Regions from separate parts of the Homo sapiens genome. Here region 1 is linked to region 2. A link means that fine-mapping ties the variant in region 2 to the expression of a gene that starts in the linked region. Tissue or cell type: whole blood. Region 2 holds a variant in brackets; the other region holds the start of a gene. All regions are shown on one strand. Distances are from middle to middle.

Region 1 (2,500 bases), 99 kb after region 2:
CCAATATTATTTCAACAGTTTTGACCGGCGCGTTAAAATGAACTTCAATGCTGAGCCACATTATAAAGGGTTGAGTCAAGCTCCTGATTGTGTAAGATAGCATTTCCCTTAAATGAGCACTTCTCTTCTTTCCTCAGAAGCTAGGCTTCTTTTCAAATTAAAGAAAATACTCCACCCCTCAAAAACCTGGCATATTCTCGGTTCCCTTTACGCTTATTCACACCAGAAACGCTGAATCATGACTCCGAGGTTGTAAAAGAAAAACTATTTCGGCTGGGGCCCCAGGGTCCCTGGAGAAGCCTAGGCTCTGCGTTACCTCTCTCTGCACCTTCTAAAGTCTAGATCCAGAGAAGTCTGGCAGATTGGAGAGCCTCTGGGAGCAGCCAAGGGTGCAAGGCGGGGGCTGGGGGGCTCGGGAGAGTTTTCTGCTCCCTCTCCTGAACCCACGCAGCCCTGTCAGCTCAAGGCTCCCGCCTCGTCTCATCTGAACGAAACCCTTAAGGGGCTGATACACTTCTCATCTGCAAAGCTGCCCAACAGCCTCCGAGAAATTCTCTACTTGGAAGCATCGCCACCACCGCCACCCCTCCGGAACCCTCTGGGTCCGCGCTAGTCCCACTTGGTCACGATCCGGCAGGCGAAGGGGTGCGGAGGCGGTTTCACCAGCCCGCTCCCAGCCCTGCCTCGAGAGAGAAGCCCGCTGAGAGGGCAGACAGTTGAGAAACTCGATCCCAACTCCCCAGCCGGCGCCTCCCGAACCGCCCCGAGAGCCCAGATTAGCCGGGCAGTGGATCCCGGAGCAAAGTGCCATGCACATCCTGGAGAGGAGGGAGGCGTGGAGGGAAAGGGCGGCAAAAATGAAATGCCCCCAAGTCAGTCCCGCAACTTCTCCCGGTCCGAGGGACGGGCGGAGGGTAGAGGAGGCAGCGGCGGCTAGCGCGAGGTGAGGGACTCACTTGAAGGTGAGGACGCAGAGCGGCCGGTAGGACTTGTGGCTGGTGTTCTCGGCCATGCCCTTGCCCCAGAAGTCGTTGGTGAAGATGCCCCAGCGGAGCGGGGCGCCGGGCCGCACGTCGGGGTTGTTCACGATCGCCCACACGTCGTCGTGCACGAACTCGCCCTGCAGGGAGCGGCCGTAGCACAGGCAGCTTGCCCCGGCCAGCAGCGCCGCGGCCCCGGCCGGCGCTAGCCCGCAGCCCCGCCGCCGGGAGGGTGTGCGGTCCCCGCCGCCGCCTCGGGCAGAGGTGGTCACCACCATCGCGCCGCCGCCGCCGCTGCTGCCCTGGCCTCTCCCGGGCGTCTGGCATCCTCCCCTACCGGGGCCCCGGCGGCGCGCGGCGTCTGCCCGGAGGGGGGCTCGGGCATGGTGCTGCGGCAGCTGGACCCGCCGCGAGCTCCCCGCGCTCCGCCGCCGCCTGCGCCGCGGAGTTGGCCCAGCTGCAAATAAACAGCAGTCCCCCCGCCTCCCCCGGCCATCGCCACCTCCTCCGCCCCACTGCGCATGCCCGCTCGCTCTCTCTTCCACCGCCCCCCAATCCCGGGACGCGGGCCGGTTCCCCCGCACAGCCCGGCGCCCTCTGCCCCCGGCCCGCCTTGCTTGCAGGTGGACCGGGGTTCGCGGCGCGCGGCTGCCCGGGAGCTGCGGGGAAGGACACCCCAGGTTCCCACTTGCGGTGTCCGGCTGTGCTCACCCCCACGCCCCCGCCCCCATCCTTCTCCCCCGAATGGGGCTGGGAAGGGGCACATCTGGCGGACCCCTCCCGGGGGACCCAGGAGGGTTTAGCAGGTGCGCAGTCTGGAACCCCCACACCCACCTTCCAGGGAGAAAAGTGCCGCTGCTTCCCGGGAAGTTCCCGGCTTTTCAGCACCCGGGACAACAGCAGCGGCGCCCGGAGAGACGCTCTCCACCCGCCCCGCGCTCGCGTCCAGTCGCCGGCTCTGTGCTCTCCTGCCCGGGCTTTCTCTCACCCGCCCGGCGCGGCGTCCCGCTTGGCGGAGGAACCCGCGGGGATAGGGAGCACCTTCCTCAAAGCCAGGAGAAGGGGTCTCCCTGGACAAGGACATCCTGCTCGCCCTGCCCGGGTGTGTTCAGAGGCGCCACCGGCTCTTTAACTTTACAGCCCCTTTCTTGGCCCGCACTTACAAAAAGTACCAGGTTCGAGTTTTGGTTTGGGCCTGGGAGCCGAATTGTCTTCTGAAACATTTCTTATTTTATTGTTTGCTCAAGATAATTTGGGAGATGCCAAGCAAACTACTTTTTCTATCTAGCTGGATCACTTGGGTCTCATTATTTCCTGGGCTGTGGGCGTGTTTGAACAGGGCGGGGAAGAAGGTGGGGATGGGGGGATGGGGAGGTGGGGGCGATTTGTATTAGGGCCTCTGGCTTTGGCTCCTAAACTTCCTGTCTTTCTGAAAGATTGTTTTCTTTTTTAAAATACTAATTTTAATAATATGTCCCAGAGTGATGATTACTAGAATTTCTCCAGGTCTGAAAATTCTA
Region 2 (2,607 bases):
TTGCCACAGCAGTTCTGAAAAGCGCTGCTAAATGCGACTGTATAATTTTCTCTTTTAGACAATTCAAAAGTTCACAAAAAGCAGAAAATCCCATACAAGAAGAGAAATAAAAAGAATGTAGCATACCTGAAAGAAGCAAAGCTTGCAAATAGACTCTCCTAATTATTCAGAAGTTGAAATGTCTGCACTAACAAGCAAGCTTATACCTAAACTAAAATTAGTAAAGATAGTCTATTTCCTATCATTTTTTTTTTTTTTTGAGACAGGTTCTCCCTCTGTCACCTAGCCATGGAGTACAGTGGTATGATCTCGGCTCACTGCAACCTCCGTCTCCCAGGCTCAAGCAATCCTCCCATCTTAGCTTTCCAAGTAGCTGGGACTATAGGCGTGTGCCACCATGCCCAGCTAATGTTTTATATTTTCATAGAGACAGGGTTTCGCCATTTTGGCCAGGCTGGCCTCAAACTCCTGAGTTCAAGCAATCCGCCTGCCTTGGCTGACCAAAGTGCTGCGATTACAGGCATGAGCCCCTGCGTCCAACCCTTCCTATCACTTCGAATAGGAAAAACTAAACCAGTGTTGGTGGAACAGGAGGTTAAAAAAAATTAATTTTCCATTTTTGCTTTTTCTCCAGTTAAAACCTGGAATTTCCAGAGCAGTTTTATTGATAATGACAAGAGAAAAAGAAGGCTAAAGAGAATATTTGAACCTCAAATGTCTTTGAGCTCCTAACAGCTTGAGCAAAACTAACAGTAAATAATTTCAGAAAAATTTTCTCATAGAGGAAATATATTTAGTTTATCTCATTTGACTATATACATCACATTTGAAGTTGACAATTTTAACAACAGCAAAAAAGAGGGCTTTCTCTTTATTTTTAATCCTAAATTAGTACAGTAATAAGTTCCTCTAAACAAATTCATATCTGATTCATTTCCTAATGTTAAGAAATACCAGAACTAGGGTCATCAGGAGCTTTTTATTTCTTTTTATTTCTATTTTTGACACTATTTCCCACTCTTCAGAAAATACACTGATCATTGGTGTGTAATTCTGTATAAGATCTCTCT[C/T]TAGACTCAGAACTGGATGTAAATATTGACTGTGCTACTATGAGCTGTAGCTGTAATGAGGATTAAATAAGAAAATACAGTGAAAACACTTAGCATAAGGCATGGGATCTCCCCCTCTCCGGCCACACACACACACAGTTGGCTGTAATTATTATTTTCTAACACTGTTAACTGCAAATGACTGGTTATTGTGAACACAAAGAATTTTTTCCAACTCAATAGTTAAGTTGAAAACATAGTTTTCTTGCTGTTCAGACGTGGTATGTTGTTTTTAATAAAATTCTACAAACCTTTTTTCCCTTTCTATTTCAAACAGTGTGCATTCTATTGCCAACCTAAGAAACTACTTTTTAAAAAGATTAATTGGGCATAGGATGATAAGATCCTATCTTTCCAATACACATTTTTATTTTTACAGCTAAATCGCATTTACCGACATTGTAAATGATTTATTTCAACTCTAAGGAAATATTTTCCTAACTAGATATCAAGTACTATCATTCAGCAGCAGCAAAATAAATTAACCAGAGCTATATTATTGCCACAAAGATTAAAAAAAAATTCCCAGGCACAGTACAAAACAGTCTACACGTAAGAATTCAAACCTATCCTATTTATTTTTACATAATTTTCACATTTTTCTTTGTTCAAATGGAATGGCATACTATCCTTTGTTACCAAAATTATTTCCAAAATAAAAAAAAAAAAACTTTCCAGGAAAGCAGAGAATAGCCAACAAACTGATACTAAGTACAATACATTAAAAATTGTAGTGCTTAAAAGATTGAGTTTTGCTTTGCTACCAAAATTAACCTTAGCTTAAAAAGACAAAACATAAAGGCACAATATCTCATTCTATATACCTATGGTTCTAAAACAAATTTCACAAACCTGACCACTGAATTTAAAAAAAGCAAATTACTCTGTTAAGAGGCATTATTTTCTATTAAAAAAACATAACTTTCAACCAGAAAAAAAAGAGGCCTGGTTTGCAATACAGCAAGTAATATTGAAAAGCCTGTTCAATGAGTACAATTACTTACTGAAAATTGTTTTTATGTAATTTGCTATTTATTCTGACAAAACTGACCAAGAGCCTCAATACCAAGATTAAAATAAATCAAATTCAAATTTTGTAAGATAGATTCCCTAATTTAAAAGCAAAATAGGCTAATGCACTTATAGAAAGTAAACAAACTACTCTTTAGCTCATGCTTACTATGGTTTAAAACTGTAGACTATATTATAGCAAGATTGTTAAAAAAAAAAAAAAAAAAAGGTGAGCCTGGAAAAGCCACTTTTCTTGATGTTGAAAGCTCCATCATTATCCATTCCCACACTCAACAGTTTTTAAATTTCTACTGAACCCAATTCAGCACCTGCTCAAGTCACTGAACTAAAACTTTCACTAAGATCACCAACCAATCCAGTATCCTAATACACATTCGGTCTTACTAGACATCTGACTACATGTGACATTGTTCATCAATCTCTACTCTCCTGGATTCTTTGAACATCTTCACCTCTGATTTCCCTT

The links. PIP is the estimated chance that this variant, and not a neighbour inherited with it, causes the effect.
Region 1: it holds the start of TMTC1, and the variant in region 2 is fine-mapped to the expression of TMTC1 in whole blood (INTERVAL, PIP 0.97).

Annotation. Positions count from the first base shown.
Region 1 is chr12:29,782,494-29,784,993 of GRCh38, forward strand. It overlaps TMTC1 (transmembrane O-mannosyltransferase targeting cadherins 1), which reads right to left and starts at 1,449. Exons shown (of 18, transcript NM_001193451.2): 1 at 957-1,449. The coding sequence starts at 1,258.
Region 2 is chr12:29,683,602-29,686,208 of GRCh38, forward strand. All of the region lies in intron 5 of TMTC1 (transmembrane O-mannosyltransferase targeting cadherins 1), which reads right to left. Among named protein-coding and RNA genes, the nearest start is that of TMTC1, 99 kb to the right of the region's middle. The variant C/T (reference allele first, on the strand shown) is at 1,071.